Regions from separate parts of the Homo sapiens genome. Here region 1 is linked to region 2. The links come from fine-mapping of genetic effects on gene expression. A gene starts in region 2. The other region holds a variant in brackets. All regions are shown on one strand. Distances are from middle to middle. Region 1 has its middle 73 kb from the start of MAPK10. Region 2 holds the start of PTPN13 (protein tyrosine phosphatase non-receptor type 13).

Region 1 (5,383 bases), 160 kb after region 2:
GCTCTGATGGCATCACATATTTTCTTTTCTTTTTTAAAAAAATTATTCTTTTTTATTAAGGTAAAATATACATATAAAATTTACCATCTTTGCCTTTTTTTTTGTGAGATGGCGTTTTGCTCTTGTTGCCCAGGCTGGAGTGCAATGGTGTGATCTCGGCTCACTGCAACCTCTGCCTCCTGGATTTAAGCAATTATACTGTCTCAGCCTCCTGAGTAGCTGGGATCACAGGCGCCTGCCACGATGCCCGGTAAATTTTTGTATTTTTAGTAGAGACTGGGTTTCATCATATTGGTCAGGCTGGTCTCGAACTCCTGACCTCAGGTAATCCGCCCGCCTCAGCCTCCCAAAGTGCTGGGATTACAGGTATGAGCCACTGCGCCTGGCCTCATCTTTGCCATTTTTAAGTGGACAGTTCAGCAGTTATAACTACCTTTATATTCTTTTTTTCCCTTTCATCCCCTGGCCCCTTCCTGGCCTCTGGTAAGCACCAATCTACTCTCTATCTTCATGAGATTCACTTTTTAAGATCCCGCATATGAATGTGATATTTGTCTTTCTGTGGTTGGCTTATTTCACTTAATGTAATGACCTCCAGTTTCGTCCATGTTGCTGCAAATGATCAGATATCATTCTTCTTTATGTCTGAGCAATATTCCATTGTGTATATAGATCATATTTTATTTATCCACTCATTCATTGACAGACACAGGTTGATCCCATGTTTGGTTATTGTGAATAGTGCTGCAATAATCGTAGGAGTACAGATGTCTCTTCAATACACTGATTGCCTTTCTTTTGGCTACATACCCAGCAATGGGACCGCTGCATCATATGGTAGTTCTATTTTTTGTTTTTTGAGGAACCTTCCTACTGTCCTCCATAGTGGCTGTACTAATTTACATTCTCATCAACAGCGTACGAGGTTTCCCCTTTCTCCACATCCTTGCCAGCAACTGTTATTGCCTGTCCTTTTGATACAAGCCTTTTAACTGGTGTGAGATGACATTTCATTGTGGTTTTGATTTGTATTTCTTTGATGGTTACTTACGTTGAGCAGGTTTTTTATATACCTGTTGGCCATTTGTATACCTTCTTTTGAGAAATGTCTGTTCAGATCTTTGGCACATGTTTAAATTGGTTATTTGTTTTTATGCTACAGAGTTGTTTGAGTTCTGTACATATTCTTGTTATTAATCCCTTGTCAGATGGATAGTTTGCAAATGTTTTCTCCCATTCTGTGGGTTGTCTCTTCACTTGATTGTTTCCTTTGCTGTGCAGAAGCTTTTTAGCTTAATGTGATCCCATTTGTCCATTTTTACTTTGGTTGCTCATGCTTTCTAGGTCTTATACAAAAACTCTTTGCCCAGACCAATGGTGCATGATAGGGGGTCTAGTTTCATTTTTCTGCATATAGTTCTCCAGTTTTCCCAGTATCGTCTATTGAAAAGACTGTCCTTTCCCCACTGCATGTTCTTGGTACCTTTGTCACCATTTCTTTTCTGTTTAGATTCATGGCGTTAAAGTTTATTGACTACAACTCAATGTCAAATATATATTTTACATCATGACTCTATATTCTGAGTCACATACATACACATCAACTTGCATATATATAGTGGAAATAAAGTTTCAATGGAAAAAACGCTTTTCTCCATGTGATACGTGTGGAGAGTTTCTATTCTATTGTAATTTGTTACATTTTGTTTAAGAAATGGGAGTGGTAGCTCCCTAAATTGATTTCATGGCTCATTCATGTGTCATGAGGTTCAGCTGAAAAACACTAATTTAGATGACTTGAAGGGTCAACCTTCCTCCTTCAATGCTCCCTTGAACTAGAGCCTTGGACTGGGCACAGCTCGGCCTAGTCGTGGTCCAGCAGTTTTTAAAGAAGGCCTAGGCTGGGTGCGATAGTTCATGCCTGTATTCCCAGCAGCTTGGGAGGCTGAGGTGGGAGGATCACTTGAGCCCAGGAGTTTGAGACCAGCCTGGGCAACATGGTGAGACTCCATCTCTATAAGACAAAAAAAAAAAAAAAAAAAAAAA[AG/G]AAGAAGGCCCAGACTGTGATAATATTTTGATCCTGGACCACACATAGGAGGGAGGAAAAAAGTTAAGCAAGAATGTGATCTCAGTTGAAATCTAGTTTCAGGATAATTCCACAGGGAGTTCTAGAGTATTAATTGCACCAAAAAGTTGATCATGCCTTCAGGAAAGGAGTCCAACCTTTTGTATTTTGGTATTAGCTGCAGGTTGGCTCCAGCTGGGGGTCCTGGAGGGCCTAAAACCTCAGAGTGGGGCCTGCAGCATGGGGGTTGGGGAGGCAGCTCCTGTTGTCCAAGGGCAATTACCAAAAGAAAGGGGGCAAATGTGGGCATCAATGGAGTAAAGGGATGTAGGTAGGGGGCATCAACAGTGCCTGATGCAGCTTGCTCCTTGCACTGCTGAAATCCACTTGCTTCTCATATTAACCTCCCTCTGTACAAGTGTGGTTTCTCCAGAATTCTGGCTGGTTACAATTTCTGGAAAAATCTACAAGAGGAGGGTTAGTGGGACAAACTACAGCCCCTGTTGCTACAGTTGATCCTGAGACCATAATTAGTACTCATTATCTTCAGCTTTTACCCTTTGTTCTACTTCCTCCCTCCCACAGGTATGAGCTGGCTAGATGGCCTTTGGTTATGCAAATTAAGGATTATTCTTGTTGGCTGCCTATTTCTCTTTCCCAGAAGAACTTTATGCTTTGTTTGCCATCTCCATTGATCCCTGTGAGTCAAGCCATCTGCCCTTGTTGCCCATTATGGTAACTGTGCCTATCTTGCCACTGAGGATTGATTGCCACCACCTGGCTTTGTTGTTTTGGGCTCCTCTCATTCCCACTACAAGTAGTGAGTGCAGTTCTGTAACAAGTCCTATCATTGGATCCAGCCCTTAGGCCACTCCCTAATGAAGTTCCTGCATGGAAATCTCCATCTTAGAGTCTGTTTTCTGAAGACCCAATTTGTGAGAAACAAAAATGAAATCCTGGCTGGGCATGGTAGCTCATGCCTGTAATCCCAGGACTTTGGGAGGCCGAGGCAGGCAGATCACCTGAGGTCTGGTGTTTGAGACCAACGTAGCCAACGTGGTGAAACCCAGTCTCTACCAAAAATACAAAAATAAAATTAGCTGGGCGTCCTGGTGTGCACCTGTAGTCCCAGCTACTGGGAAGGCTGAGGCACCAGAATCACTTGAACCCAGGAGATGGAGGTTGCAGTGAGTGGAGATTACACCACTGCACTCCAGCCTCAGTGACAGGGCAAGATTCCATCTCCAAACAAAACAAAACAAAACAAACAAACAAGCAAAAAACAATTCTTATGCCCCCAACTGACTGAATGGGCCTCTTCTTGGCCCAGGGGACCCCAGAAAAACCTTGAAAACTGAGTTCCCAGTGAAAATGGGATGGGAGGTTGGACCCATCTCATTAGACCCTCCTGGCTAGCTAACCACCATTAGGCTTTCTTCTCTAGGGGCTACACAGAAATCAGCTTTTTAAAAAGACTCTGCCATTGACATCAACCCACTGCCTGATGCTGCCTCTCCTTTTGGATTTCAACAAAACATCTGACCAGCATTCCTTCCTAATAAAAGACCGCTGTCCATGAAGTGGTTCTGGGCAGTGTAAGGAGGATACACAGAGAGAGTTTTCATGTCCTCTGCTTCACCTTTTGACATCATAGGGCTGAAAACTCCACCCTCGGATCATGCTAATATTGCCATTTTTTTAAACACGGGTCCCATGGAGAGGCATGAAGCTCAATGCGAATGCACATGTTTCTCTTTTCATAACACGACTCTTCCTATAGCTTAGTAAATATGTATATTTGGCCATCCTGCTCAGCATAAATTCCTGTTTCCTTTACTCCTCCCTTGAAGTGCTTGTTTCTAGCTTCTGACCAAAGGCTACGCTGACCAGCCTGTCAGAATGGCCACTCTGCTGGCTGCAAACTTTAACAAGGAGTAAAGCTCCTCTTTCTAATTTAGTTGATACCTGCAACACTGGGTTAAGCCAAATTAAATACTATTTCTATATTTAGGATTTTGTATGTATTTTATGGGAGAATACAATGTGAATTTCCATGAATATAATATAAAATATTTTGTAGAAATTCTGTTTTGTCAGATGACACTTGTCTAAACTGCCAAACTGGCATTCACTTGGACCCTCAATGTTGTCAATATTTTAAGTGAAAAATATCAGTCATTTTAATGTTTAATTCTCTTGTCATGAATATCTTTTCATGTTTATAACGTTTATATATCCTTTTTATTAAACTGTTTATTTGTTCCCATTTTAAAAATTGATTTGTTAGTCTTATTGATGTATAGAAGTTCTTTATATATTATTGGAATTAGCTCTTTGCCTGGTATGAGTGTAAAATATTTTTTCTTAATTGTCATTTGACTTGAAACTGTTAAAAGGTTATCTTCCTTTTCTTTTTTCTTTTCTTTCTCTTTTCTTCCTCCTTTCCTCTCTTCCTCTCTCTCTCCTTCTCTTTCTTGCTCCTTTCCTTCTTTTCTACCATCTTTTCTAGCCTAAGCCATTGCAATAGCCTTCTTATAATAATAGCCTGGCTTTTATTCCTGTTTCTGTCAGTTTTTTCCCCATATAAACAGCCAGAATAATTTTTGAAAAGCATACGAATATTTCACACAACTGCCTCAAATATTTCAATGGTTTTTCCGTTGTTCTCAGGGTAAGGTCCTATATTGACTTACAAGACTTCTCTGATCTGGCGCCCCATCTACCTCTGTAGCCTCGTTTGCAGCCACTTTCTGTATCGTGACGTTTTTTCCCTTTTCCTCTAATGTGCCAGTCCCCTTTCCTCTCAGGGCCTTCACATGTACTGCCACACCTCTTCATTCACCTATAATTTTGACTGGACAATTTTTTGTTCTTTAGGTCTTAGCTTAAATGGCGCTTTTGTAGAGACAATTTTTGTACTCCTTAGATTATATGCCTTTCTTGCAATCCTATAATAGCCTTCATAGCTCTTGACCCAACTCTATGGTATATAACTACTCGTTTATTTAAATATCGGTATCTCCTGCCAATGTCTAAACTTTGCGCTGTCAGGAATTCTCTCTCTCTCCTTTTGTATTTCTAGCACCTACCAAAGGGCCAAACACACAATGGATACTTGGTAAATAATTGTTTAAAATATATTGGTTGAAGGAAAGAAAAAGACTTGAGAGTTGGGCGGTAGACAAAGACTTTAGTACCGTGCCAATGAATTCATACTTTATGCTGTAGAAAATGAAAACCATTGATACATTTAATAACATGGACCAGTTTTATGTTTGTTTTATTCTTCCTTCTCTTCTTATAGAATGTTGGATTTTC
Region 2 (5,383 bases):
TGATTAGCTAATTCTCACATTCACATACCGTATTTAGGAGGCAGCCCTCAAAAACAACAACAAAAAGATGACCTAAGTTTTATAACGTGACCCCATCATAGAATTAAAATCTGACTTTTAAATTGACACTGGTTTTAATGGTGTGCGTGTATGTTACTTGTGACATGAAAAGCCATTTATATTTTTGGATGCTGGTAATCACCCTCCAAAATATAACTAGGCTTTACATGCAAGTAAAAATGGTGGGACAAATGCAAATTCAAAGATAAACCTACATAATGGTAAAGCAAGCTATCATTCTCTAATTGTAAAAGTGAAAAACACTATGAAATCAGTCCTTTTCTTAACAACTAACCTCAAATATTTTTCTGTTTTTAGTTCTAATTTCCATCCTATCCTCTCCCCACACATACTCCCACAAAGCCTCTAGAACATCAAGTAGAACACAATGTTATGAACAAAGTATAATAAACAAGATTGGACGTCAGTCAGTGCGCCTCTGTATAAATTTACTAAATCAATATATGTATGAATTTACTAACAAATGCTCCTAGTGATATTAAAACGAGAAATAATTTGTATATTGGCACCACTACAAGCAGCCAATGAGCATGAAGCAAGTTTTCACCTGGACCCTGCCAACACAGTCATGAAGACTTTAGGAAAATACCTAAGCTTGTTTCATAATACATGCACTTTTACTCCCCCCCCCATCCTTTAGTAAACTTTCTAGATATAAATTTTAAAATCTTAAAATTTATAATTAGTTACCAGCGCCCTTCATCCCACAGATCAGGTGTCCTACATTTTGTTCAGGTCCTGCCTTGAAAACAAACCCGATTGCCCCATTTTCTGCGAGGGAGCTCAGCTCCAGGCAGCTCCCTATGAAGTCACCGCGTTTGTTGTTTCAAAGATGCAATTAAATGAAAATGACACAAGGCTGTCGAACAGATTAGTTGGAAGTGTGCGGTGGTGTCGATCATATACGTGTATGGCCAATGAAAACTGTATTGCTGTAAATCTCTTAGTGATATTTCTCCCCATCCTCCTCTCTCCATTATATTCACAACAGAAGGAAATTAAACTTTGTAAGAATTTTCTTGACTTTGGTTTAACTTTAGCTTCCCAGCTGTCTGCTCTTACAGTATCACGTAATGAGCAAAGCGGTGGGGCTAGGGGGCCGGAGGGTAGAGTGTTAACTTTAGCAAGCAGAAGAAAAGCAATAAAAGACCTTGCATCAGACAGTGTCTCTCCCTCTGCCCCCTCTTCCTCTGCTTCCCCGCCATCCCACCCCCTTCTCGAGCCCTTACACACACATTCTTCTGGGCGGCCTCTAACCACACCATCTCCACAATCATTTGCAGAAATTAGAAACAGACTCCGGGAGCCCTTCCCTTAAGCACGCACAGAGCGGAGCTGTGCAAGCACGACGGGGCAATGTCACTCCCTATTACCCCACAATCTCTTACTCCCCCTGTGGGTTTCATTCCCGAGAATCCGGCTTTCTTCCGCAGAGGAGATGGATCTACCTAATTAGCAATGGAGTTTCATCTCATTCTTCCCCACTCCAGTCACCCCACCCCCACTCTAACGTACAAAAACACCCACCACCAAAACCAAAGAAAAGTTCCTTCTACCAGGGCAACCGAGGAGTTGGGTTTAGGGACTGGAGCGAAAGCAGAGAGAGGAGGAAGAGAACGAGCGCAATGTACTTTGTTTTGCACTTCTGCACATGCAGCGCAGAGCCCAGGGCGGCTCTCGTCCTTACCGGCTGGTCCCGAGACCGGGTCCTGCTACTGGAGCGCCGGGCGAGGGCTGCAGGGACGCGGCGTCGGGGCGGGCCGCCGGCAGCCGCCGCGGGCGCCGAGAGCCACCACCACTTCTCCCACAAGCGGCTGCGGGCGTGGGCTGAAGGAGCTGTAGAAGGAGCCTGGGGAGGGGGAGAAGAGGAGCAGCATCTCCTCCTCCTCCTCCTCGCCTCGGAAACGCTCCCCAGCGGCGATCCCGGCCGACTGCCTGACCCCCGAGCGCTCAACGCACCCCCGCCGCCCTACTGTGCTCGACGCCTCTCCAAGAGCTTCGCCAAAACCTTCTGGCGCGGGCGGCTCAACTCCTGTAGGCGACTCTGACCGCTGCCGAGGCGGACCGGGGAGCTACGGAGCACGGCTCGCCAGCACGACGGTCTCCAGGGGCCGTGAGCATGGTGTGTCACCCTCGCCTCAGCGTGGCCGCTGGAGCTACTCGCACCACTGGGGCTCCACCTCGGGCAGCCGCGCCGGCTCCGCCCCCCCGGTCCTGTCACTCAACCATTCCCCGGCACTGGGAGGACCGCAGATCTCCCACCCCGAGCTCCCCTCGACCTCATTGGCCCGCCTGGCATCCAGCTCCACCTCCTCCCTAGGGACGAGGTCGCCAGGGAGACCAGCGCCCCGGTTGCCATGACAACCAGTGCCTTGGGCCTGGCTTTTCGCGTTCTTCGGACTAGCCAGAGGCTCAGGTTGGTGACCGAGCGGCAGAGTTCCTAGCGCCTGCAGTGTGGTGAACTCCAACTTTTAGGCCAAGTTGAAAATGCAGCCGACGACCCCCACACTTCTAACTTCAGAATCAAAACTATGACCCTAGGGAGTGAGGAGGAGAGTGAAAAATGCGTAAGTGCTGGCTCCTCCCTTACTCTTCGCTGCCTCTCAGCCTTGTTTCTATATTCTCACGGGGCGCTTTGGTCTTTGAAAGGAAGAGGAGAATGGGGGAGAGGAAGAGCATGGCTTTGCCAGCTCCTTGCAGCAATATAGCAACTTAGAAATGGCGGGGTCAACGAAAAAAGCCCGGTGAGTTTTCCCACGGTTGTAAAGCTATCTTCAAAAGTGTGGTGACAGCACAACGCCAAATGCCCTAGGGAAAACTGAAATTCTCATATTTTTGAAAAAAGTTTGTAAATACTTGCCTTGTTATTTTATCTATGAGACTAAAATAATCCCGAAGTTTGAAAATTTAAGGAAAAGGTTTAACATAGTCGATAACCTCCCACTTTTCTATATACACTGAAATTTGGCCAAGGTATATCCAGACAGCTGTACCCCTCCTTGCTGCAAGCCGAAATATTTGAGTTTCAATAGTTAAACAAGAGAGTCTTGCTGAATTCATGAACAAATAATATCCTGTGATTTGAGTTTTGAAAGTTTTGGGTTATTCTCAGAGGTATAAGGTAAACTGGTCCACTCTGGAAAGGGTACCTGAAGATAAATTTAGTCTGAGACCCTTAATGTTGAGCCCTAGGTAAATCTGAATTTCATGGCTGGCTCCAAAGTGGAGAGATCTGAGGCTTATTTGGCTTCCCCAAAAAAAGTCAAAGCAGCAATCCTAGGTTCCCTAGCCCCTGAGGCTGCCATACATGTATGATGAATGAGGGAATTAATAGTAATGATTTATCTTTGGCGAGCACTTGAGTTTTCATTATATCATTTACTAAATGAATAACTATGATAGATATCTTCAGTCAAATATGCCTTACAAGTATGCATTGAATGTGATTACTCATAGGGCTAAACACAACGGAAAATACACAGCAGGATTTTAAGCTAAGTCCCCGCTCCCAAGGAGCTAACCTGGAGCCTAAGAAAGAAAACTAGCACTCTTGAAACAATTTGAGAACAATTATAGCTAAAATGTGCAGCCAAACTTTGAGTAGGTAGCAGCTAAGAGAAAGTTTGCTATGTAAAATGGGCTGGATTCCTCAGTTTATGGAAGAGGGGAATTTACACTGGGCTTTGATGAATGCAGCAAAGATGAGGAAAGTCAGTTGAGGGGAACAACAAAAACTAAACAGCAGCAGCAGGGATAAGTGGTGAAAGTAAATAACAGGCCAGGCTCCTTGGATGGGAAACACAAGTGGATGATTGGAGCCCTTTTCTCAGTTCTTCCCCCATTTTTAAATGTTCTGGATCATCTATCAGGGAGGTAGGAAAGGCAGGTTGGGAAGAACAGAAACTTTCATGAAACATCTGTCTCTGTTTGCCTCTGAAAGAAAGTTCATGTATTTATTGGAAAGAAAAGCAATATCCTTAATTAATGGCTGCAATAGCTTGTGGATTCACATCAGAAAGAAGGTATAGCAAGTATAGTGTTGTAAATTTCCGCAAAAGTAGACAAACCACAGTGTTGTTAGCTTTTTTCCTTTTCTTTTTCTTCTTCGTGTTTTTTTTTTTATTAAGGCCATTTCAGGTGGTTGCCCTCAAGGCATTTTCACCAGTAATCCCTCTGTTTTGGATGAGCTGAAAGACTGGTTTTAAAATACAATCTGTTAAAAAGTACACACAAGGGAAATCTACAGGTTAAATTCCTTTTGGATATAATGTAAAAGTCAATACTAACAAATGGAACCCAGCACTACATTACAAATAATATAACAAAATTAAGAGAAATTATTTCATGTGTATAGTTATGGCAATAGTTCAATAACAGAAAATTTTCTCATATGCTTGATTATATTAGTAAGTCAAAGGAGGAAAACATTATGAGGATCTCAGTTGATGCTGAAAAGGATTTTGTAAAGTCCAGCATCATTCCCAATAAAAATTAGAATTTGTAATAATTTAAATATATATATATGTTATACTAAAGCCAGCCACTTCCTTTATAACATAACATCATAATTATTCCTATTGAAGTCAAGTACAAGGCAAGAATGTTCACCATCACATTGTAACAATAGAAACGATAGCCAATGCAATTAGATATAAAATAGAAATAAGAAATTAAGTACTGTAAATAAGTCAGGGTTGTCATTTGTTTGCAAATAATATGAAAACTCCAAAGCATCAACTGAAAAGCTTTTAGAGGCAATAAAAGATAAATTAAGATAACTAGTTATAAAATTAACATACGGGGGGTGGGGCACAGTGGCTTATGCCTGTAATGCCAACACTCTGGGAGGCTGAAGTGGACAGATCACTTGAGTCCAGGAGTTCAATACCAGTCTGGGCAACATGGTGAAACCCTTTCTCTACAAACAATAAAAAAGTTAGCCAAGCATGGTGGGATGCACCTGTAGTCCCAGGTACTCTGGAGGCTGAGGTGGGAGGATTGCTTGAGGCCAGGATGTCGAGGCTGAAGTGAGCCATGATCCCACCACTGCACTACAGCCTGGGCAACAGAGTGAGATCCTGTCTCAAAAATAACAATAATAATAATAATAAAAAAACATATGAAAATCAAGAGCTTTCTCATGTATTATCATAACCAATTTGAAAATACAATATAAAAAGAATCCATCCCACTTACAGTAGCCACAGAAATTTAAGTAGCTAAAAATAAACACTAAAATAAATTTATAAAACTGGCTGGGCATGGTGGCTCACGCCTGTAATCCTAGCACTTTAGAAGGCCA

The links. PIP is the estimated chance that this variant, and not a neighbour inherited with it, causes the effect. A credible set is the group of variants that fine-mapping cannot tell apart.
Region 1: its variant is the best candidate, but not a certain one, in a credible set for the expression of PTPN13 in whole blood (INTERVAL, PIP 0.76).

What each region holds. Positions count from the first base shown.
Region 1 is chr4:86,430,220-86,435,602 of GRCh38, reverse strand. It overlaps a transcript of MAPK10 not described here. Among named protein-coding and RNA genes, the nearest start is that of MAPK10, 73 kb to the right of the region's middle. RefSeq lists an enhancer at 2,408-2,950. The variant AG/G (reference allele first, on the strand shown) is at 2,047.
Region 2 is chr4:86,591,175-86,596,557 of GRCh38, reverse strand. PTPN13 (protein tyrosine phosphatase non-receptor type 13) reads right to left here and starts at 2,243. Exons shown (of 48, transcript NM_080683.3): 1 at 1,769-2,243. It also overlaps a transcript of MAPK10 not described here. RefSeq lists an enhancer at 2,006-2,592.